7 linked regions of the Homo sapiens genome follow. The protein of the gene in region 1 purifies or fractionates together with the protein of each later gene. This does not show direct contact. Each region holds a gene or a part of one and is shown on either strand. Other genes may lie near its edges.

Region 1 (3,500 bases):
TGGGTACTTTTAGAATATATGATTAGTAAGGTCTTCTCTGGCTCTAAAATTTCCTGAATCTAATGGATTTAATAATATATATCACACGTGTCACACAGGATGTAGTTACCTTTCTATGTTATGTAAGTTACCATTAGATGGTATGTTACTTCTCAATAGGAAGAGTACAATACAAATAAGAGCACACAGAATCATAGCCTAGCATCAGTACACACCACGCTTCATCATCGTTCATCAAATCCTCTGAGAAACAAATCCTCACAATATCTTCCTTTAAAGCAATTTACGCAGTCATAACAACAAAAAACAATGCCTAAAATCAAACCATCATGCCTCACTTTAAGCACATTGAGAGATGGGGAAATGTGCTTTGTTCACTTGTGAATTTCATTGAGCTTCCATTCTGCTTCTTTCTACAGGACATATTCTAAAGGCATTACACTTTTCTAATTTTCAACAGTCTAAATGAGTTTTCTATATGATATGTGTTTCATATTCCACTTCAAAAAATATAGGTACAGAAAAGGCAAAAAAGTGAATATAATCCGGGGGTCAGTTTCTACGTGGGTTTCTAGGTAGAAAAACCTATCTATGCTGAATGTCAGCTTTATCAAGACCAAGAGCCACCTAGTGGCAAGTGTTATATATTACCAAATCTGCTCAAGCCATATTCATCCAGCAAATAACATTCTGGCAGATGGTAGGTGCTCCACAATTGTGCAAGGTAAGTAAAATAATTGCTCCTTTTCTTATGAAGCTCACTGACAGATTAAACAATCAATTACAGATAAATTTATATAATTGCAGAACAATGTTAAGTGTAACAGAAGTATGCAAAAATAAGCATCCAGCATTTATTAAAGACCTACAATAAGCACAACACTTTGTTAAAAAGGTTCTCTTGTATCTGTTCACCTTACTCAGAACTTTCCCTTTTCTGATTATTTTATCACCAGGTTTTAATTTCAGGTTTTTTCCTACCCTCCCTTCTGAAGGGGGTGTACCCCACTCCCATCTTACCCTTTAAATTCCACACTTCAGAAAAGGGGTAAGGAGAACCTATTTATTGAGCACCTACTATTACCAGAACCAAGCTAGGCATTTTCTTTTTTTTTTTTTGGAGACAGAGTCTCACTCTGTCGCCCAGGCTGGAGTGCAGTGGCGTGATCTCGGCTCACTGCACGCTCCGCCTCCCGGGTTCATGCCATTCTCCTGCCTCAGCCTCCCAAGTAGCTGTGACTACAGGCGCCTGCCAACACGCCCAGCTAATTTTTTGTATTTTTAGTAGAGACAGGGTTTCACCGTGTTAGCCAGGATGGTCTCGATTTCCTGACCTCGTGATCCGCCCGCCTCGGCCTCCCAAAGTGCTGGGATTACAAGCGTGAGCCACCGCGCCCAGCCGGCCCAGTAGGCATTTTCTATCTCTTATTAATCCTCACATCAATACCATGAGGTATTATTTTCTTCCATTTTTTAGACAAAGGAAAAGACCTAGCTTAAGTGAAATGCTCATAGCCACAAACTTATTTTAGTGACTTACAGTACAATTATTCCCAAGTTCCCTACATCACCCTGCCTCAAAAAGAGCTTCTTGGCCTATTCATTCCTAGGCCCACCACCAAAATCAGATTTTGATTATATTTCTCTTATGGTGTCCACCAATTCCAATCTATTTTACACTGTTTACATCCAGCCCTACCTCATCTTAAAACCCTCAATGCCGCCAGGAACGGTGGCTCATGCCTGTAATCCTAGCACTTTGGGAGTCTGAGGCGGGTGGATCACCTGAGGTCAGGAGTTCGAGACCAGTCTCACCAACATGGAGAAACCCCGTCTCTACTGAAAATACAAAATTAGCTGAAAGTGGTGGCGCATGCCTGTAACCCCAACTACTCGGGAGGCTGAAGCAGGAGAATCATTTGAACCCGGGAGGCATATGTTGCGGTGAGCCAAGATCGCACCATTGCACTCCAGCCTGGGCAACAGAGCAAAACTCCGTCAAAACAAACAAACAAACAAAAACCTCAATACCTTACCCTTGTCCTCTGTATCCCTGATTAATATTCAAATAATCACCTTAGGCCATCCATAATCACACCACATTGGGAGACCAAGGCAGAAGGATCACTTGAGCCCGGGAGCTCTGGACCAGCCTGGAAAACATAGCAAGGCTGTCTGTACAAAAAAAATGTTTTAAATTAGCTGGGGTTGCTGGCGCACACCTGGGTTTGGTGGCACACACCTATAGTCCTAGCAACTGGGGAGGGTGAGGCAGGAGGATCCCTTGAGCCCAGGAGGTTGAGGCTGCAGTGAAGTACGACTTTGCCACTGTATTCCAGGCTGAGCAACAGAGCAATGAGACTGTCTCTAAAAAACACCAACCAGCCAAAAAACCAAATAATCAGGTTAGCACTCAAGGTCTTCCAAGAGGCTCCCAATTACTTTTCCAGCTTAATTTCCCATCACTCCCTATCAACTCTCACCTTTTCTATGAACTCCAAATGAAGATAATCATTTACATCTGTGTTCCCACCAACACTAAATATCGGTTACAGCACTTACCATAATCTCCCTTACACAATAATTACCTGTGTACACTCTACCAAGTCATGAGCTTCACCAAACCATTTCTTAGCCATCTTTATAGGACCAGCACAAAGAGTGTCTTATACCTAATAAGTGTTCAACTGCTTATTTAATAAATATATTGTTATTAAAACAATACTAAAAGGAGAGCCACTAAAGCATGGTTATACTATTAACATTTTCCTTAACACCCCTCCTACATGTCTTAGGACCCCAGTGTTTCTGCTTACTCCAAATGGTGTATGGATTAGGAGCTTTGTACAGATCTAGGTAATTTTTTGCATGAAAAATGTTATCAAATTAAAAAAAAAAAAAGATGTGAAAAAACATGCTGGCAAAATCAGGCACAATCTTTGCAGATCTGCAGTTTTCCAAAAGGGAACATATACCTTTGTTCTATTTATGCAAACCAGTCTAAAGCTAGTTTGTACTGGAGGAAATTAAGCTATGTCCATAATAGACTGTTCACATTATTTTAAAAAAACTACAATATTACATTTATATTTCATAAAGCAATACTGTACTTCTATAACACAATATCATACTTATAAAAAAGTTTTATAGAGTGAAAAACTTTTTTTTTGAGACAGGGTCTTTCTCTGTCACCCAGGCTGGAGTACAGTGGCATGATCACCATTCGTTGCAGCCTCAAACTCCTGGGCTCAGGCCATCCTCCTACCTCAGCCTCCCAAAGTGCTGGGATTACAGGCCTGAGCTACTACTGCGCCCAACATTAAATATTTTTTCTCCTGTTATGTAAACTTTTTATGAGAAACTACTCTTATCACTTACAACTCTGATTATCATCTCATTAACAATGCACAGATAATCATTAGCTCTTAGGCTAAGACTACTGAATACAAAAAAAAAAAAAAAAAAAAAAAACCTCCAGGGTCAACTTGATTCTCTAGTGT
Region 2 (3,500 bases), on another chromosome or scaffold:
ATCACATGAAGAGAGAGAGAAAATGTTAGTACAGAAGTAAAAGAATAAACTTTAGTTATAGATGGGACTAAAGAAAGAGAAAATAGGAGACAGCACAGAACCACTTATGAAACACAACTGACCTGAGTTCTGTTAAAAGCCACACGTGCAAATACCGCCTGGGAGATTCCTGCTCGTTTCAGTTCATCGCGTACCCACTGGTAGATTTCGGAAGACACCTCTGTGTTGGTCGAAACCTGTTGCTCCAAAGGCTTATTCATAGATCTACTGACAGGGGGAGGGTGGTTCAAGTATTGTTGGTTTAAGGACTGCTGGGCTAAAAGTCTATTCACTGCATACTGCTGGTTCAGCAGCTGAGCCATCACCAGCTGCTGGTTGACCAATTGAGGACTGATAGGTGTTGATACGAGCCCAGGGTGCAGGTTTGGAAGAGGTGTCCGGACAGAGGGCTGGCTGCCATGGGAGAGCTGCGCAGGGGATGGAGGCTGCTCGGCTGTGTTCCCTGGAACTGGTTGCTGGCCAAAATTGACATGATTGGCGCCTTGCTGGGATAGCTCAGAAAGACTATCCATTTCAACTAAAGTGGACAAAGAGTAAAATCACATTCAGCCAACAATGATTGGCATTGATAAAGATTTCTAACCATTTCCTAAATTAAAAAAGGGTAGGCACAGGGCACACCCCAAATCCAATAAAACCAAGAAAATTTCAAGTTGCAACTTACCAGGCTGTGTTTTTGCTCTCCTTTCCTGAACAATTCTACAAACTTTGGAAATGGGACAGCATTCCTAATCTTATTTTTAAAAAGTGGTTTAGATTTAAGGCATAAAATCAATTATTACCCAAACTCTTTCCAACTAGTTGTTCACTCTCACTTATTACCCCAAGAAGGCTTCTAAGCAACAATTTTTAAAAATGGCTTCTAAAAGAATGTCATTTGCTTAATGACAACTACAAACAGTGAGCTGAGCTGAGAAAATAAGCTTATAATAAGCAACTAAAAAAATTTACAAATATATTCTCATGATATTCATTAACTTTAGTACTCTAGGAAAAAGGTGTAAAAGAAAAAATATGACATAAAAAGTCACCTACTTTCAATTTTTACCCAGCAGTGAATAGAAGTAGTTAATGTAATAAATAAAAATGGGCATAATAATAAGTGTATATTGAACACTTGCTGAATATCTTATATGCCTTGCTTCATTTTAATTCTAACCATCATGGGCAGTAGGTATATCTGGAAATACTTTTTAGAATAAAGCAAGTGATTTATTGTATATCAAGCCAGCATACCCAGTGTTGCTAAGATCCAAATGTTTTTTCTTCAGGAAGCTATGGCCATCACCAGATGCTAAAGACAATCTTGCAGGGAATCGTTCTGGTACAATGGTGAGGCTGTCATGATTTTGCAATTTATTCCCACCTACCCAGGATGAATGCTTCTTCCTTGGCTAGGTTCCTCATATGGATTGGCTGAGCATCATCTCTAAGTATGTAAATGCTTTTCTGTACGAAGAGGAGACTGGTTCGATGCTCTTGGCTGGAAGGGCTGAGCATGAAGCTGTACATAAACAGGACTTTCCAAATTGTACACAGACTTCCCACATGTAGACTCTAGTTTGATTTTAATCATCAATTCTCTTTTCATTAAATATGCAGGTTTTACATTTAGAGGAACTTTATCATAGCGCTATAGCTCCTGATATACGCAAAATATAACTAAGAATTGGGGAAGAAATCTTCAATTTCTACCAGTGATATCAGCCCAAGTGGGCCATTCACAGAGAACAGTAATTCAAGCAATTATTCCAAAAATGATGCATTGTCTTCATTACAGCCTTAAGCTATAAAAGGCAAAGAATCCATTTTGGTAGATGGATGGTTTTTCTTCAAATATTAAGAGCTAAAACTTGCTCAAAATTTGGATTAATTTTTCTTAAAAAATTAAAAAAAAATTAAATGAATGTAAAGAAATAAATAGAAATAGATTTAAAACAGGACATAATGCCCATTCCTATATTATTTTAAAATATATGTTTTGGAGGGTAAAAGTAGGTGAAAGAGAACAGTAATAAAAATTAAAACATTAACCTTAATCACAGTGTTTGCTTTTGTGAACATTAACAAACTCAACAGAGAGAAAATGCCATCATCTAAATGCTTAGGTACCATACACAACTTTTATCTATCATTTTACACTGCAGATAATTTTAGTGTACTTCTTGCATAACAAATATTCACCTAAAGTTATGTGTTAAGATAGAATGCTACCTTGGAATTAAAAGTTCAGAAATGATGCAATAATTGTTCTGGTATGGATGGTAAAGCAATGTGCTTATCAAAGTGCCCATCCATGGCGGCTGGGGGTTAGAGCTATAAAAATCACTTGATCTCTACTGTGGAAACTATAAATAGTTTAATTTAAGAAGTTTAATTTCCTTTAAAATTGGGTGTAAAAATAGGCACTTTCTCATTCAACCAGACAAAAACAAAAAACCTAAAAGCAAGACTTATCAGAGAAAGAAATCACAGCTAATATTAGTTATTCAAGGCCTGGTTAGGTCTTCACTGAGTTGTTAAAAAATGACAGCTCCCCTCCCAACGCCTCAATTTCCTGCATGTCTGACAACCAAGTCAGTTTGGCTGATTTAAACACAAACATTTATTGAATTTAATTATCTCATTATACTCATACCCACTTCCCACCCCCAAAGAAACATTCTAAATTGATCTCTAATTGGGCAATCAAAAGACCTGGCTTTAGATGTGACTTTGATAAACCCCCAAATGACACGTAATGGTATGTAGCCACTGCTGCAATGTTTTTTTTGCTTACCCATCATATCTTTTGTCTTCTTGAAATGTTTGTACCACCTTCCAAATTCTTGACATTTTGCTGCTGAGACATTTGCATAGTAAGTACTGTTCACAATGGAAGAAATCATACTCTGCATGAAGAAGGGGGGAGAATATTTGTAATACACAGCAGCACAAGATGGAACACAGAAATGATCTCAATTGTGGCAACTGTATTTTTTTAATCAACTGAGTACCAATACATTTTGGTTTCACACTTTAGCCTAAAGCTTCGACTTCTTAATATTCATTAAGTAGATCATCAAATGCTTATTTAAGTAGAAAGCAACAGCCCACTGAGACCAGTATAAAGCTATCAAACCCACAGACTTTGCTCTAGCATTCATTGAATCTCCATCAATGCCATCTATTACTAGGCTGTCAAACTCACTGGTCCCAATAAATCCAAATACATGAAGATGACTTTATAATTGTGACTCATAAATATACGAGACTTCGCGATTTTTTGACTGGACTCTACATCTTTTCTACTCAAAGTATAGACCAGGGACCAGCAATATGGGCATCACTTGGAAGCTTGTTAGAAATGCAGAATCTTGGGCCCTACCCCAGACCAGTGCACTTAGCAGCTGAATTTTACCAAGATCCCAGGGGATTCACATGTATATTAAAATTTGAGA
Region 3 (3,500 bases), about 110 Mb from region 1:
CAGTTCAGTGGTTGGACACTAGACTGGGCAACATAGTGAGACCTTGTCTCTACTGAAAATTAAAAAAAAAAAATTAGCCAGGTATGGTGGCACATGCCTGTAGTCCCAGCTGCTTGGGGTATGAGGTGGGAAGATGGCTTGAGTCCAGGAATTCAAAGCTGCAGTGAGCTATGATAGTGCCACTACACTCCAGTCTGGGCAACAAAGTGAGACTCTTTCTCAAAAAAAGAAAGAAAGAAAGAATAAATACAGTGATGGATGCCCTAAATACCCTGACTTGATCATTACATATTCTATGCCTGTAACAAAATATCACATGTACCCCATAAATATGTGTAAATATTATGTATTAATGTTTAAAAAGTGAAGCTGGTAAGAAGAAAATTAGAGACAATCTGGGAGGTTTAGTCCATGATGAATAGAAGTTCCAGAAGGTTTTAAAACAAAAAAAAAAGTAGGCCGGGCGCCGTGGCTCACACCTGTAATCCCAGTAATTTGGGAGGCTGAGGCGGGCGGATCACGAGGTCAGGAGATCGAGACCATCCTGGCTAACACGGTGAAACCCTGTCTCTACTAAACATACAAAAAAAAAAAAAAAATTAGCCAGGCGTGCCGGCAGGCGCCTGTAGTCCCAGCTACTCGGGAGGCTGAGGCAGGAGAATGGCGTGAACCCGGGAGGTGGAGTTTGCAGTGAGCAGAGATCGCGCCACTGCACTCCAGCCTGGGCGACAGGGCAAGACTCCGTCTCAAAAAAAAAAAAAAAAAAAAAAAAAGAAAGAGAAAAAAAGTAAAGGGAATAAAGAAATAATATAAGAACAAAGAAATAATATAAGAACATATCTCAGAGAAGATTCAAAAACTTTTAATGGTAAAAAATGTTATTGCTACTTTCACTGTCACTAATTTAGCTAAAATTTTCTAGGAATGAGAACATGGTAAAGGGATTAGGAGACAGAATGGAAAAGAAACTGAGTGTGGGAGGCAGGTTTTAGGACTACTCACTAAAGCAGGGATTCACAACTAATATATGTCAATGAATAGCAAATAATGATATTGTCTCAATCCAACTGGCAAATCAATTCAACTAAGAATTTTTTTAAAAAAAGAATTAACGAAGGGTAAACTTTTTTAAGTAGGGAGTTTCCCTTCCTTAAAAAAGTATTTTCCCAGAGGGTAGAATTAATACACATGTATGATAGAAAGTTTAGAAAATTCAGTTAAATATAAAGAGGAAAACAATAATCACTCATAATTTTTCCAGCCAGAAATAAATATCATTCCTAACATTTTAGGAATTCAGTATTTAGAATTCCTAAAATAACATTTTAGTTATTCAGTATTTTTCTACACATATTAAAAGTCACAATTTGGATTGTAACATATAATTGTTTTATGATCTATTTTATTCATATTATGAGCATTTCCATATGATTAGTCATTCATTTATATCATGAATGTCATGTACGTATTTATTTTTCCAAAATACTTATTTTTGGATCAAAGTTTTCACTATCATAAGTAACACCATGAGCATAATCTTTGTTCAACCATCTGATCAAAAAGAATAATATGTAAATTCTGAGAAATGCAATTACTAGATAAAACACATTCAAAATTTTGAAATATCTTTTGTTTCTATTTTTGTTTCCCTGTTTTTTGAAATATACAGGAAGTAAGCGCATTCCTATTCATTTCTGAGATGGCATTTTATACAAATGTTCCAAATAAGTAAACATCTGTAAAAGACAATTTTCTTGAAATAAACGTGCCTAAAAGGCTTTGCTGCTGAAGTCATTCATTAAAACGAAATGTTGATCATGGTCATTGTGATCAACAAAGAATAAAGTGAGTTTTCACTAGCAATAGCAGAAAACGAAACTGAACTAAACCTATGTATAATTATATTTTATATCGTACCTGTAATTCGTGCTCGTATTTGTGGAATGTACCCGCATATAATGTAATGAACTATTCTGAGAACTATGTAAATACTGCTTCACAATCAGATAAAAACAAGAAATAAATGATATGTTTGCAGAAAGACATTCACATGTTTATATATGTATTTTGAAGCTCGTTTCAAACAGTGGTGAGTTAATATTTCATTAAAAAGCACGCTTTTACCTGATGAGATTTTGTGAGGTTAAGAAGTGATTATTCTAATGAGGACTCACAAAAGAACATTCTGTCCACACTGAAAATACTTCGTGAGACGAGAGAAGAGAGGAGGAGCACACAGATTTAATCCAGAAAAACATCACTTTGCTTCTTCAGCTGACTGAGCTCTTTCAAAACATGACCTCTGCAGCTACCAGCTTCAGTGACACATAGTTAGGCAGGCATAAGGACCTCAAAGAAGTACCCTTAAAACTCATGTTCCCGCAAAGACAGGAACTTGTCCCAAGTTGGCACATTTTGAAAGACATTTAGTGGGGGTGAGGATAGGTGCATCATTGCACTCACATGTCTGCAGAGCCTGTGAACTGGAATTAATTATTCATCTTTGGTCTGGCTTGAAGGAAATACTCTACTGTAGCTAGTGTAAGAACAGCGAATGTAGAAGCACAATTTGTATTAACAACAGACCATTCTGACAGCTTGTGATCTCATAAACCTTCTGACACGCCTGGGCTACTACAAACATTCATGTATATTGCCTATATTTCTGCCTGCTTCAGAACTTAATCTGGAGTATATAAAATGCTGTTATCTCCCCAATGGTATATATTCTTAATGAAACTAAGATAATATATAGAAGTTCACATTTCAATGATATTTTTCTAGTAGCTACTGATTGCAGTCAATGTAAACCAAGTTATACTTTTATTTATCCAGACGGAATCTTTAGAGCCGGCTGGCATGTGCAGACAAGAAGCCACTGTGAGGTTTGGGGGTTGTAAGGCTGAGGACAAGAATGAAGCCACAGAGCTCAGGCCTGTCTCTGCAGGCCAGCACCACCTCCAGCCCTGCAGCTCCATCAAGCTTGGGGTTTCGGGGGTGGGGTGGGGCACTCCAGGAGCTACAAGATGCAAATAACCAAGTGAGGCAAGATCTGCCTGCGTTATTTCCCAGTGCTTCTAAAGTACTCAACTGTGGACACCTACCCAAGCACTAGTTAGAACCTGTTTAGACATGAGGGCCTCTAAAGCAAAGACTTTTCTGCAAATTCTCCAAGTAAAATGACCATGTCTGCATCCTGGAAGAATTGAGGCACAGCACAGCAACTGGCAGTAAGATGATCTCTCTTGAATTCATCCATGTAGGGCAGGGGGAGTCGCTTTAATGGGCATTTCCCCACTCTCTCCTTCAGGGTAGAACAAATGTTATATTAAAGGAGCTTTGGCTGTTTGCCACTGGTCAGGATGAAGAGACTGAAAAGCTTGTCAATGACTATTCACTTCCCGACTGGTTGCTGCTCATTTTTTACCATGCATACCAAGAGCCCAACCTCCCATGAAGGAGGACAGTGGGAAAGTAGAGACTTTAATACAGCACTAAGA
Region 4 (3,500 bases), on another chromosome or scaffold:
CCAATCAGAAGCCTTGGTTAGAATGCATTCTATTAAAGGACTCTGTCGGCGGGTACTTCCAGGGCAATTTAGGTGAGTTATATTTGAGGGTCTTGGTGGCAGATTCAGGTCCCACGAGGAACTGTACCTTTTGGGGGGAAATTTGCTTTCTTGGATTTAAGAAAGTGCTTAACCTAAGTTAAGCACTAGGTTAGCCAGCAGCTGGTTTCTGAGCCAGGAGACTGGGCTGATGGCTTTGGAGAGGAAGGAGGCAGGATGGAGCATTGGAGAAGCTGGGCCGGCAGATTCTGATGCAGAGGAGGAGGCGACACAGGCCCCTGATCCCAGCCCCAGCTCCTCTTCCTTGTGAGAACTTCCGGCTGGGGTTTTCGGGACTGGGGTCTGGTGGTCTCCTTTGGTCTCCCAGTTAGTGGGCTGCCTTGCGGGGAAGGGACGGAAGAGGCTGAGGGTCAGCTCCCAAGAGCAGAGGAGTTGGTGGGACTTGGGCCGGGAGGTGCAGAAGGGTGCATCTGGCTGCACCCTGCCCTGCCCAGCTGCTGGGTGTGACCTTGGGCAAGTCACCTCACTTGTGGGCTTGTGTTCAGAGGGGCAGGGGTGATGGCTGAGCTTGCAGTCACACACCCGCTTCTGATAAGTGGCGGGCTGTGTGAACTAGCAGTCAGTAGAGGCGCTTCAGTGGGTTGGCATCTGCAGGTTGCTGTTGTGCCAGGTCTGGCTACTTGACCTTGGGATCATCACCTTCCTTCCCACGACCCTGCATTGCTTGCTCACTGTAATCTCGGCCACCCCACTGGGTTTTGTGAGAATCAGGCAGGGAAAAATGTCAACGAGGTCTGTGAATAATAAAAAGAGTTACACGATTACAGCGATTTCCGAATGCCTGGTCCTTTTTTTTTTTTTTTTTTTTTTTTTTTGAGACAAGGTCTCACTCTGTTGCCCAGGCTGGAGTACAGTGACATGATCACAGCTCACTGCAGCCTCAACCTCCTGGGCTTATTACATCCTCCCACCTTAGCCTCCTCAGTTGCTGGAACAATAGGGACACTCCACCATGCCTGGCTGATTAATTTTTTCTAGTGATGGGGTCTCACTATGTTGCCCAGGCTGGTCTTGAACTCTGGGGCTCAAGCGATCCTCCTACTTTGGCCTCCCAAAGTGCTAGGATTATAGGTGTGAGCCACTGTGCCCGGCCTAGTCTTCTCTTTTACAGGGATAACTGTCACCTGCCAGTTGGGGCATCTGGCTCTGTGGGCCGGTCAGAGCTCATTCTGCCCTATGGCCTGACACCTGCTCTGGGGTCAGGGTTCACGCCCAGCGCTTGCTGCAGCTGGACCCTACCCAAACCTCTGTGCCCCCCTCTTTACATGGGAGTCTTCAGGCCACCTGACTCAGGAACATTGTGACAATTCAGTGAGAAAATTCTCGCCAAAAACTTAAAAAAAAAAATGTATCCCTCTGTTGTGGACCCTCCAGGAGGGCCAGCTCTCAGGTGGCCCAAGGCTGGACTTGGTGCTCCCTTTTCACCCCCTAGTCAGCTCTGGCTTTTGGGCATTGCCAGGAGGGACCCAGGGGCTGGGTGGGCAGGGGTCTCTCCCCACATCTCTCCTGAGGGGGATGGTGATGCCTCAAGATTGCACTTACCTTGTGTTGTGGCTTCCTATGGACATCTCTTCCCACCTCTTACCTCCAAAGAGCCCCAGCTTTAAGCCACCCACTGCAGAGCAGTCCTGGTCCCCTTGGCCTGCTGGCCTCTCAGACATGGTATGGTCTGAGTTTGTGCCAGGCCTGGGAGCCTGGACTCCGCCCTAAGGCTGGGCCACACACAGCCGTGCAGCAGGCCTGCTCCAGTCCCCCTATCACCTCCACTTCAGGGCAGGGGAACCGGGAGAAGTGAGAGCACTGACATCCAGCTGACCGACCCTAAAACCATCCCCTCTCTGCCCTGCACCCTAAAGTCTCATGGAAAGTGGGGGGCCCGGGCCCCTTTTGCAGTGCGGACATTTCAAGACCCTGTAAGAGACTTGTACCCTGGGTGCAGGCCCTGGGCCTTTGGGTCCTGATGGAGGAGGGGGCTTGGCTTGATGAGGACGGAAGGAGGCTGATTTGCATCCAGACTTCCGGCGTTGGACACCTCTCTATTGGGAGAGGAAGCCGAGGCCGGGGAAGGGGCAGCGATGCGTCCAGGGTCCCACAGGGAGCCAAGGCTGGACAGATGGGCAGGCTGGGTGGGGCCAGGAAGGCCACGGCTGTTTCCAGCTGTTGCAGATGTGCTGCCTCCGGGGTCCGTGCAAACTCCTTTCCGCCTGCAGGCTGGCGAAGGGGCCAGGGCACACAGCAGGGGAGTTAGACTTGGCAGCCCCTTGACCCCAGACTGCCTTCATCAATGGAGCAGGAGCTGCCCAGAACCCTTTTCCTGTTCTCCCACATTCAGGGGCATGAGCCCCCTTGGCCCAGTCCTGGAACAGGGCACCCCGGGAGGGCCCCTCAGGAAGAGGCCGGGGCTGCGGCTTCGGGTGGGGCCGGCAGCCTCTGCTGAGAGCCCAGCATCTGGAAGCCATCAGGCCAGGGGCGGGGGGAGTTGCAGGGGAGGTCCAGGGAGGGGGACATGCCTCCTCCAGGCCACACACAAGCCCAACCCTCGGGAGCGTGGCCTTGGGCCCACAACCGCTGCCTCTGCACCCTGGCCCGCAGCCCCGCCCCCTGGCGCACACGCCCCGCCCTCGTCCGAAGCCACGCCCCCAGCCAGCAGCCACGCCCTCTTCCCCCAGGCTGCCTTCTCACCGCACTGGCCACTGCTCCTGCAAGGGTCAGCAGCGCTCCCCACAGCATGGTGGGAGCCTCGCTTCTCCGGCGCAGGGTGGGTCTATCTCTTGGAGTGGGTGGGCTGTGGGGAGCCGTGTCCCCAGGGGTTGTTGGCTTGGTGTCTTTTTGGGGAGTGAGTGGTACTTGTCTTCTGTGAAGTCTTAGCCTAGCGGGGCTGGGGCTTGTGGTGGGAGGCGTGGCCGTGAGGGTAGGAAGGGAGTGGGGACGTCTTCCTCAGTCCTGGGGTGGCAAAGCCTGAGACGCTGAAGAGGCGCTCCAGGTGCCTAGCAAATCACTCAGAAGTGTTCCAGGAGCGGGGACAGCGTCCCTGAATGTCGTCTGCATCCCGCGTGCATCAGAATCACACCACGCACGTTTCTGGGCCCCACCGGGCCTGCTAGTCAGACGCTGGGGCCAGCACCCGTCGTCTGCATAGTTTCTAAGCTCTTGGATGTTTTGATGCTCAGACACACTGGGAATTCTGTTCCGGAGGAGAGACTGCTCCCTGTGAGGAAAGCCAGGGAGGGGATGGGTTTTTGTTGTTGTTGTTGAGACAAGGTCTTGCTCTGTTGCCCAGACTGAAGTGCAGTGGCGTGATCATAGCTCACTGCAGCCTCCAACTCCTGGGCTCAAGCGATCCTCCCACTTCAGCCTCCTGAGTAGCTGGGACTACAGGCATGCACCACCACACCTGGCTA
Region 5 (3,500 bases), on another chromosome or scaffold:
GTTGAAGTATATCTTTGGACAGCAATATTTTCCATTAATCATAACTGGGAAATGAAGAAAAACAAATATTCAAAACAGTCATTCTCTACCCCACGTTTCCAAAGCTGAACTGCCAGGGAAGAAAAACGAAGCACATGTACCATTATATTAATATAAAGTTTGGAATTACTTATTTTGAAGCTTAACATGTTGTCTGAGAATGCTCTTAAGTAACTTACAGAGCTTATCACTCTGCTGAAATCAAAGAGGGTCCTGAATTAACATGCTGATTAGTTCCTAGGTTACTGCAAAATTGATAGAAGAACCCTATCTTCTATTAATAAAGAAAGTGGAGGGTGTATTTTAAGAACACATGAGGATTCTGGATGATCAATGATTTCTTTTCCAGGTCTTCAAAAACCAACTTTCAATCATCTATTCTGGAATATTTATAGAAATTGTTGAATATTATTGAGAATTAGTTTGTCTCCTAAAAACCACCAAACTAATATGTTGGCAGCCTTTGATGTTGTGAGAGCAATCCCATCTCTGAGATTTCTCAGAGGGCTAAAAGTATGCTGTGACCACATCTCTAAGTTTTTTTTGTACTGTGGGGTATAACTGGGTCTGGAGACCCTTTTCTTCAACTATTTGTCTGTATCAATACTGTCCTTCAATTTAATGTTTTTAAAAAATCCCCTCATAGTGGTAGGCATGTCAGCTGTTGAATGTAAAAAATTCAAAGACACTAAAATACTGCTATAAAGCACAGAGAAGCTCTTCTAATAGATATGCCTGTTAATCCAATGTTAAGGAAAGATATGCGCACACTGCCCATTGTTGATAGGATCCTGCAGTTCATAATGTTTTCTCTTTAATTAAGAATAGTCACAGCCAGGTGTTGTGGCTCATGCCCGTAATCCCAGCAATTTGGGAGGCCAACGGGGGAGCACATCGCTTGAGTCCAGTTTGAGACCAGCCTGGGTAACACAGTGAAGCCCCATCTCTACAAAAAACAAAAACAAAAACAAAAACAAAAAAATCAGCCACATGTGGTGGCATATGCCTGTAGTCCCAGCTACTCGGGAGGCTGATGTAGGAGGACAGCTTGAGCCCAGGAGGTGGAGGTTGCAGTGAGCTGATATCACTGCACTGCACTCCAGCCTGGATGACACAGCGAGACCCTGTCTCAAAACAAAACAAAACAAAAAAACGATGGTCTATCATAGTGGCCAGTATGCTGGTGCTCACATTTCCAGTTGAACCCTGCAACCCAAATGCCTCTTTTCAGAATTAAGGCACTCATACCCCTGCTGCTGGGTATGTTGGCAGCTTACAGTTCCCAGTTTTATGTCTATTCTGGAATCACCCTGAACTGGGTACTGCTCTCAGCAGGAGAGGGCCACCTTGCCCCTTGTGAGGTGGGGAGGGAGCAGTGGCTTACTTCCAATAACTGGTCAGTAAAGTGTGGCCACCACACCTGAATTAGGATCAACTCTGAGTGGTTAGATCAGCTTCAGGGCTCCCAGTGGAACTAGAAGAAACTTCTGTTGCAACTGCATCATGGTTCAACTTATCTCTCTGCCCAATCCTACTTCCTTTACTCCTTCTAAGGAGCTGTTCCCAAAAATACTCCCCAATGAAACTCCTGAATGCATATGTCAGAGTCTCAGACTCTGTTTCCCAGGGAACCTGACCTATGACAAAACCCAAACCAAAAGGCCTTGGCTGAGGTTGTGCAGAAGATATTAATGTCTTAAATTCTGTGGTTTCAGTAGGCATTCGAATGGCCAGGAAAGCATCAAAAGCAAGGAGTTACACAGTCCTAACCCTCTATGTACAAATGATGTAATGAAAAGGCAGTAGGTACAAGAGACGGAAGTACGGGTTTCTAATTTGTGAAAGACTTCAGTTTCATTTCTGGTCTTTCTACTCATAAGCTGTGTGATCTCTCTGAGCTTCGATTTCTCTTCTAGGCATTTACTAAATATCACCCAAATGCGCAATCTGTGCTAGAATACACACAGCCAGGATGCTAAACATTACACAACAAGCACGTGGAAGTTAAGAATAGTTCAAGAGAGGACCCTGGACAAAAGGCTTGAACCTCCAGCAAGGATTTTTCTCTCATTTATCAGGCATTAATTGCCTCTGGGACAATTTCTTTTTCCATTGCTTTATTTTTTTCACATAAACTGTGAAATTTATATACAAAGTATGCATATCATAAAAAAGGGTTTTAAAAAGAATAAACTTCTACCTCTCAACCATCTAGCTTAAGAAAGAACACTGCCTGGAAAACTTCAGGTTCTTTAGCTAAAGTCAAGGATGGTAACATTGGCCTTCTGAGCCGTTGGCACACAACGGTTGATCAGTAAAGAATAGCTACAATTATTAGAAATGGACGGAACTATCAGCCTAGAGATGATTATTAAACTAAACACATCTTAGACAGTTATAACTCTAAAGTCACAATTAAGAGACCCCTCTATGAAGACACATACTATACATCAAATGTACTGTTTTAAGTTATTTTCAGATATAGTCCATTAAAAGAAACTAAGTCTTCTTTTCCTTAAGATGACATGTGCTTATACCTGACTCTGTGGAGTTCAGCTCCTGATTCCTCAGGCCCTCGTGGACAGTCCTCGAGGATGGTACTCTGGGTCAAGAAAACACAGTAAAATAGTGAGATAATTCTTAAGATCAGTAAAGTGTGAGGCTTAGTTTCCTTCAAATCTAAGAAGAAAGCAAATGTGGCATGTTCGCAAAATCTGTAACAGAAGGTACTCCCTTGATGATACTTTTTTTTTTTTTTTTTTTTTTTAAAAGAACAAGGCTGGATGCGGTGGCTCACGCGTAATCCCAGCACTTTGGGAGGCTGACGTGGGCGGGTCACAAGGTCAGGAGATTGAGACCATCCTGGCTAACACTGTGAAACCCCGTCTCTACTAAAAATACAAAAAATTAGCTGGGCATGGTGGCAGGCACCTGTAGTCCCAGCTACTAAGGAGGCTGAGGGAGGAGAATGGCGTGAACCCAGGAGGCAGAGCTTGCAGTGAGCCGAGATCGTGCCACTGCACTCCAGCCTAGGCAACAAAGCAGGACTCTGTGTCAAAAAAACCAAACAACAACAACAACAACAACAACAACAAAAAACTACAACAACAAAAAAGAACAATTGTTTTTAAAACTATATATAGGGCATAATGAGCCAATGGACAGTCTGTATATAGCATTGTGATACTACATGTTCAAACTTTCTCTTCATTCACTGGGCAAAAAAATTACAAAATTTCTTGTGAGATGCTTAAATCACAAATAAACTACTCATTTTTCAACAGTCAAAGAACAGAAACTTTATATAGGGTTCGTTTTCTTCGTCCATCAGTTTTCAAATTAAAGACAAATTATGTTATTTAAAAAAAAACAGAGGCTTATTCTGTATGTAGCAATCACTGAAAAAAGGCTAATTTATCTTTTAGAATGCATCCTAACTAAAGCTTTGGATCAGTTTTGGC
Region 6 (3,500 bases), on another chromosome or scaffold:
CATTTGAGGTTGACAAGATCTCAGTTCCAGAATTATGCTGCCATTGATCACAAGCTTTCCATTACCATTTTGGAGGGTGCCGTTGCTTTTGTCGTAGATGGGAGTCATACTGGAACCTGTGTGTTACATAGTCAAACTCAGTGAAGAATCACTAATCACTATATTATCCTCTTTACCAGAATAGAAAGCAGGCCTGGTGACCCAAGTGCCCTACTGTACTCAGATTATTAATTCAAGGTTTCTATTTTTATTGTTGCACTCACATGTTTATTCTGACCCTTCACTCTCACGTCATTAATGTAGCTGCAGCTGCACAAAGATAAGCTAGCTAGAGGAACACAGGAGAGCCAAGAGCTGGCTAACAGATTTGTGTCTTTTTCCTTAACATCCAAACTCTTGAAAACAGATTTAAGTAACTTAAAAATGGCTTGGAAGGGAGCAATACTCAGTATGTGTCACATGTATATGGACTTAGACCATGACTGTCTAGCCTCTGTGTTTATAAGTACATAAAATATTTTATTAACTGGTCATAAATGTGTTAAACTAAAAACAAGTGTATCAGATTTTTATTTGTTATATAAAATTACAACATAAAGGAGTAAATTTGAATAACATTTTGAGGAAAAATAAAAATATCTTACCCCCTACTATTGACCAAAAGTGAAGAAACAATACAAGCATAAGACACTATTATTGAGAAATAATTTTGAATGGCATTTTATAGAGCAAAACTTTGTTGTCATTGCCATAATTGATTGCTGTTTAAGATTTCTGGATCTTATAGAACTGAGGCCGTTTGAGACACATATTTGATCCTTATGTGTATATTTATGTATTTTTCTCTTATGTGGGGTTTATGGCTATAGTGTATGTTTTTAATTTCATAGCAGTATATTTTTGGTGTGACATACTGCTTTTGCATTATTTTGAGAAGTAAAACGTATTCCCTTTGTTAGAGAAAATACAAAGGAGGTTGTATTTTCCTGCTATTTGACTATCATCCTATTAACAAATTCATAAAACATGTTCTGGAAGGATGTCAGTGAGTCAGAATATAGAAAAATCCTTAAGCATGTAGTCAGATAGCTGTATGTCTCGATGAAGAGGTTGCTGTCACCTTATATTCAGTCATGAGACAGGCAGCATATTGATGTATAAAATTAACTTTATTAGACTTCTACACCTCCAAGCTTAATGGTGCAACCTTGTTTATAGCTTAGAGTGAAATGGGGAGTGCATTTGGGTTTTGAAATGTAATTATCTGCCAATTGTCAGTAAATTGTTACATTGGAAAAGTTAAATTTTTTGATGACAAAAATTGACAAATGAATTTGGTTATAATTTCTATTTCTGATGAAATGTGTTTTAGGAATAATATTCTGTTTTTACTGTTAGCAATATACTTTTGCTGTTAGAATCAGGAAATCATATAAACTAGGTTCTGTATATGGCATTTATAGTAAATTTAAGGCACTGATTTCAAGATCTGTTTTTAGTAAGATGACAATAAATTATTTAATACTGATTATGATATGGAAAAATCTGTTTAATTATGTTATTATTTGTCTGAATATTTCTCATAAGATGTATTTAGAAAAAGTTACAAGTTTCCCAAAGAAACTGCTATTTGAATGAACTAATAAACCACCAAGATCATACCCAGTTCTACTGTGACACGGTGTTTAGCTTTTTCTAGTAACTGAAATCTAGGTGTTTTTTTTGTTTTGTTTTGTTAATAGAATTCTCCCAGTCCTTGGCTACATCAGCCCACCCCTGTGACCTCAGCAGATGGTATTGGATTACTTAGTCACATTCCTGTCAGACCTTCCAGTGCAGAGCCTCATCGGCCTCTTAAAATTACAGCCCATTCCAGTCCACCATTGACAAAAACTTTAGTAGATCATCATAAGGAGTAAGTTCACCAGTGCTTAAAAATTATAAATACCTTGTTCATAATTTTTCTTAATTTGCCTTTTAAATAGTTAATTTTAAGTTAACACATATCTTAAGATTAGGCTTTGTTCTGTTTTGATATTTCTTCAAATTTATTATAGTATTAGAGTACATGCAAAGATGTCTTTTACTTTCATAATAGAATGATATTGCATAGAAGCTGTCTTTGTATTTTGCAGGAAAAAGTGGTTACAGAAATATTTGTGTATTTTCTTTACAGAGAATTAGAAAGAAAAGCTTTTATGGAACCATTACGGTCTGTTGCATCCACATCAGCCAAAAATGACCTGGATCTAAATAGGTCACAGACTGGAAAAGATTGTCACTTACATAGGCATTTTGTGGATCCAGTATTAAATCAGTTACAGAGGCCACCCCAGGAGACTGGAGAGAGGTTAAACAAATACAAAGAGGAACACCGTCGAATTCTTCAAGAAAGTATTGATGTTGCTCCCTTTACAACTAAAATCAAGGGACTTGAGGGTGAGAGAGAGAATTATTCCAGAGTGGCATCATCATCTTCCAGTCCTAAAAGCCATATCATCAAACAAGATATGGATGTAGAACGCTCAGTATCAGATCTTTATAAAATGAAGCACTCAGTGCCTCAGAGTTTACCCCAAAGTAACTATTTCACTACATTGTCTAATAGTGTGGTCAATGAACCACCAAGATCATACCCATCCAAAGAAGTTTCAAATATTTACGGTGATAAACAGAGTAATGCCCTTGCAGCGGCAGCAGCTAATCCTCAAACTCTGACTTCATTTATAACATCTCTTTCAAAGCCTCCACCTTTGATTAAACACCAACCAGAAAGTGAAGGTTTAGTAGGCAAGATACCAGAACATCTTCCACATCAGATTGCATCTCACTCAGTAACAACCTTCAGAAATGATTGTAGGAGTCCTACCCATTTGACAGTTTCTTCTACAAATACACTCCGCAGTATGCCTGCATTACATAGAGCACCAGTATTTCACCCACCAATCCATCACAGCCTGGAAAGAAAGGAAGGCAGCTATAGTAGTCTTTCCCCTCCAACTTTAACTCCGGTGATGCCAGTAAATGCTGGTGGTAAAGTTCAAGAATCACAGAAGCCTCCAACTCTAATACCCGAACCAAAAGACTCCCAGGCAAATTTTAAGAGTTCTTCAGAACAGAGTTTGACGGAGATGTGGAGACCTAATAATAACCTCAGCAAAGAGAAAACTGAATGGCATGTGGAGAAAAGCAGCGGAAAGTTACAGGCTGCTATGGCATCTGTCATTGTGCGTCCATCTTCTAGTACAAAAACTGATAGTATGCCAGCAATGCAGTTAGCTTCTAAAGATCGTGTTAGTGAAAGATCTTCAGCTGGGGCACATAAAACAGATTGCCTCAAACTAGCAGAAGCCGGAGAAACTGGAAGAATCATTTTGCCAAATGTGAATTCAGACAGTGTTCACACAAAATCTGAAAAAAACTTTCAGGCTGTCTCACAGGGCAGTGTTCCCAGTTCAGTCATGTCTGCTGTAAATACGATGTGTAATACCAAAACGGAT
Region 7 (3,500 bases), on another chromosome or scaffold:
CTTGAGAAGCCAGCCCTACCAGGCCCATCATGAGGATCCCCAAGAGCCCTCTGAGCCTTGGCTGTGGCCACCTGAGCCTTCTCAGCTGACCCAGACCCTGAGCTCCTCTCACCTCCTGCCTTATGCTTGAGTCAACTTCTCTATGCTCTGCACCACTTCCCTATTACATTTTTACAGAAACACTGATCTTAATTAAATGTAGTAAGGTAAACTCTAAGCACTCATCATCTTTCTACCCTAAAAATTAGCAAAACTGTTGAGACAAGGCATCATTTCCCCCCATGTGTTATGTGACTCTAGTTACATGTTTTTTTTTAATTTATGAAAATGGACCGAGCACAGTGGCACACGCCTATAATACCAGAACTTTGGGAGGCCGAGGCAGGCAGATGACTTGAGGTCAGGAGTTTGAGGCCAGTCTGACCAACATGACAAAGAAACCCCAACTCCACTAAAAATAAAAAAATTAGCCAGGCATGGTAGTGCACGCCTATAATCCCAGCTACTCAGGAGGCTGTGGCAGGAGAATCGCTTGAACCCAGGGGGCGAAGGTTGCAGTGAGCAGAGATCACGCCACTGCACTCCAGCTTGGGCAACAGCAAAACTCCATCTCGAAAATAGTTTATGAAAATGTTAGGCCAGGCGCGGTGGCTCACGCCTGTAATCCTAGCACTTTGGGAGGCCGAGGCAGGCCGATCACAAGGTCAGGAGATCGAGACCATCCTGACTAACACAGTGAAACCCCATCTCTACTGAAAATACAAAAAATTAGCTGGGTGTGGTGGCGGGCACCTGTAGTCCCAGCTACTCAGGAGGCTGAGGCAGGAGAATGGCATGAACCCGGGAGGCAGAGCTTGCAGTGTGCCGAGATCGCACCACTGCACTCCGGCCTGGGCGACAGAGCGAGACTCCGTCTCAAGAAAAAAAAAAGAAAATGTTAAACACAGAAACAGAAGTCTGTGATTTAATGAAAATATTTTTTAAAAATGTGTCAGGCCGGTTTCAGTGGCTCACGCCTGTAATCCTAACACTTTGGGAGGCTGAGGTGGGAGGATCACTTGAATCCACGGCTTCAAGACCAGCCTGGGTGACAATGAGACCCACATCTCTAATAATAAAAATAATAATTATTATATTGTTTTAAAAACTTGTCAATGTTATTCCTTATTTTACAAAAGAGCATGAGTAAAAGGAGAAAAAAGTATTAAAGACCATTACAACAGCATTTCTAAAGCGCAGCTTGTCAGACTCTCATTCCTCTTCAAATTATTGTGGAACTGATTGATTGATTGATTGATTGAGATAGGGTCTCACTATTGCCCAGGCTGGAATGCAGTGGCACAATCTCTGCTCATTACAACCTCCACCTCCTGGGCTCAAGTGATCCTCCCACCTCAACTTCCCTGGGATTACAGGCATGCACCACCATGCCCAGCTAATTTTTGTATTTTTTGTAGAGATGGGGGTTTCACCATGCTGGCTAGGCTGGTCTCGAACTCCCGACCTTAAGTGATCTGCCCACATTGGCCTCTCAAAGTGCTGGGATTATAGGCATGACCCACGACGCCTGGCCTATTGTGGAATTTTAAAAGGTAAGATTTTAACATCTCTGGAGGGAAGCTCAAGCTTTCCCTGCCATATCTGTTTTTTTTTTTTTGAGACAGAGTCTCACTCTGTCACCCAGGCTGAAGGTCAATGGCACGATCTCAGCTCACTGCAACCTCCGCCTCCTGGGTTCAAGCAATTCTCCTGCATCAGCCTCCCAAGTAGCTGGGATTACAGGCACCTGCCACCATGCCTGGCTAATTTTCGTATTTTTGGTAGAGACAGGGTTTCACCATGTTGGCCAGGCTGGTCTCGAACTCCTGACCTCAGGTGATCTGCCTGCCTCGGCCTCCCAAATGCTGGGATTACAGGCGTGAGCCACCGCGCCCAGCCTTCTCTTCCATATCTTTGCTGAGGGGAAAGAAGAATGTTTTTCTGATCCTTGGGTGTCACTGATTCTGAAAGTTCAGAAAAGGAACTGGGATGTCATATTTCTAACCTGTGACCTGTGCCTTTGTAGAAGGGACAGAGTCTGGGGAAGGGAGTGCCTCTCAGGGGGACGAGGGTCTTAGCAGCAGTCTGAAGCTTCCTCCTTGACACCCTTTATTCCAGGCATATGTGTTTATAAGATACATAGAAGCTGGCCAGGCTCTGCACGGTGCCTCATGCCTGTAATCCCAGCACGTTAGGTGGCCGAGGTGGGCTGATTGCTTGAGCCCAGAAGTTCAAGATCAACCTGGGCAATGGTGAACCCCATCTCTACAAAAAATAAAAAAATTAGCCGGGCGTGGTGGTGTACACCTGTAGCCCCAGCTACTTGGGAGGCTGAAGTGGCAGGATCATTTGAGCCCCAGAGGCAAAGGTTGCAATGAAGTGAGAGATCACACCATTATACTCCAGCCTCAGTGACAGAGCCGGGGAAACCCTGTCTCTGAAAAGATACATATAAGCTTATAATGGCTGGGCGTGGCTCAAGCCCATAATCCCAGCACTTCGGGAGGCCAAGGTGGGCGGTAAGTAGTTCGAGACCAGCCTGGCCAACATGGTGAAACCCCATCTCTACCAAAAACGCAAAAATTAGCCAGGTGTGGTGGCGCATGCCTGTAATCCCAGCTTCTCGGGAGGCTGAGGCAGGAGAATCACTTGAACCCGGGAGGCGGAGGTTCCAGTGGGCTGAGATGGTGCCACTGCACTCCAGCCTGGGCAACAAGAGTAAAAAACTCCATCTCAAAGAAAAAAAAAAAAAAAGCTTATAATTCGTCCCATCTATTTTTGAGCTCCCCAGAGTAATAGTGCAGTTACTGTGGGGAATTAGGCTAAGGGTAGCCTTGTCCTTGGGTTTGCAAGAAAAAAAAAAAGGCCCTAAATGTGATAATGACATCACCCCTGCTGAAATCATCACCCCTGGAAAACACTCTAAACAGACCCCAGCAACAACTCTGGCTTTTGTACTAAGTGATGAGAATGTGTCAAGTGATTTCATAAAGACATATATACAATTTCTCCTCTTGCATGCCCTAGAAAACCATCATCCTGGCCCCATAATATGTGCCTATACTATGTATCTATCCAGAACTGCACATTTTTGTGTAAATGGAGCAGCATTTTAAAATTAAAAATATATATATAAAATTATAGTCTTGTTTGATAACTGTCTGGGGTAATTTTCCAAGTTACTGTTTTCCTGACTAAACTCAGGAGGAAAACAAAGCAATCTTACTATTTCAAGTTCTAAAGTTTTAGAAGAAGAAAAACTGAGTACCATTATTTGGCCACTCCCAGTGGCTACATCTGAGCAAAGCACAAGGCAAGGAGGCAGCTCCTCAGTCTTTTCAGCAAAAAAGACCATCTAAGCCTCTCCCTTCCAGAGGGACAGGTGGTTCTGATCCCACTGAGCAGGTGGGAAAAAAATGAGGGACACAGAGTAACCTCACACAGCTGAACTAAGGGATCCT

What was found.
Region 2: the proteins of RBPJ (region 1) and SATB1 purify together in Homo sapiens (affinity purification with western blotting; 2 studies listed by BioGRID and IntAct, with this or other methods). This does not show direct contact.
Region 3: the proteins of RBPJ (region 1) and MAML3 purify together in Homo sapiens (affinity purification with western blotting; 2 studies listed by BioGRID and IntAct, with this or other methods). This does not show direct contact.
Region 4: the proteins of RBPJ (region 1) and TFAP4 purify together in Homo sapiens (affinity purification with mass spectrometry; 2 studies listed by BioGRID and IntAct, with this or other methods). This does not show direct contact.
Region 5: the proteins of RBPJ (region 1) and SFMBT1 purify together in Homo sapiens (affinity purification with mass spectrometry; 2 studies listed by BioGRID and IntAct, with this or other methods). This does not show direct contact.
Region 6: the proteins of RBPJ (region 1) and JMJD1C purify together in Homo sapiens (affinity purification with mass spectrometry; 2 studies listed by BioGRID and IntAct, with this or other methods). This does not show direct contact.
Region 7: the proteins of RBPJ (region 1) and ZNF589 purify together in Homo sapiens (affinity purification with mass spectrometry; 3 studies listed by BioGRID and IntAct, with this or other methods). This does not show direct contact.

The regions. Positions count from the first base shown.
Region 1 is NC_000004.12:26,327,514-26,331,013, reverse strand, and holds part of RBPJ (recombining binding protein suppressor of hairless), read right to left. Parts: intron 1-3,500. UniProt on the Homo sapiens protein: Transcriptional regulator that plays a central role in Notch signaling, a signaling pathway involved in cell-cell communication that regulates a broad spectrum of cell-fate determinations.
Region 2 is NC_000003.12:18,394,340-18,397,839, forward strand, and holds part of SATB1 (DNA-binding protein SATB1), read right to left. Parts: intron 2,952-3,500; coding exon 2,840-2,951; intron 578-2,839; coding exon 123-577; intron 1-122. UniProt on the Homo sapiens protein: Crucial silencing factor contributing to the initiation of X inactivation mediated by Xist RNA that occurs during embryogenesis and in lymphoma.
Region 3 is NC_000004.12:139,885,185-139,888,684, forward strand, and holds part of MAML3 (mastermind-like protein 3), read right to left. Parts: intron 3,305-3,500; coding exon of another isoform or gene 3,143-3,304; exon of another isoform or gene 2,801-3,142; intron 1-2,800. UniProt on the Homo sapiens protein: Acts as a transcriptional coactivator for NOTCH proteins. Has been shown to amplify NOTCH-induced transcription of HES1.
Region 4 is NC_000016.10:4,263,024-4,266,523, reverse strand, and holds part of TFAP4 (transcription factor AP-4), read left to right. Parts: exon of another isoform or gene 1-22; coding exon of another isoform or gene 23-72; exon of another isoform or gene 73-833; intron 834-1,641; exon of another isoform or gene 1,642-2,174; coding exon of another isoform or gene 2,175-2,857; intron 2,858-3,500.
Region 5 is NC_000003.12:52,913,574-52,917,073, forward strand, and holds part of SFMBT1 (scm-like with four MBT domains protein 1), read right to left. Parts: intron 2,642-3,500; coding exon 2,577-2,641; intron 45-2,576; coding exon 1-44. UniProt on the Homo sapiens protein: Histone-binding protein, which is part of various corepressor complexes. Mediates the recruitment of corepressor complexes to target genes, followed by chromatin compaction and repression of transcription.
Region 6 is NC_000010.11:63,207,478-63,210,977, reverse strand, and holds part of JMJD1C (probable JmjC domain-containing histone demethylation protein 2C), read left to right. Parts: intron 1-1,742; coding exon 1,743-1,915; intron 1,916-2,176; coding exon 2,177-3,500. UniProt on the Homo sapiens protein: Probable histone demethylase that specifically demethylates 'Lys-9' of histone H3, thereby playing a central role in histone code. Demethylation of Lys residue generates formaldehyde and succinate.
Region 7 is NC_000003.12:48,244,104-48,247,603, reverse strand, and holds part of ZNF589 (zinc finger protein 589), read right to left. Parts: intron 1-3,500. UniProt on the Homo sapiens protein: May play a role in hematopoietic stem/progenitor cell differentiation. May play a role as a DNA binding-dependent transcriptional repressor.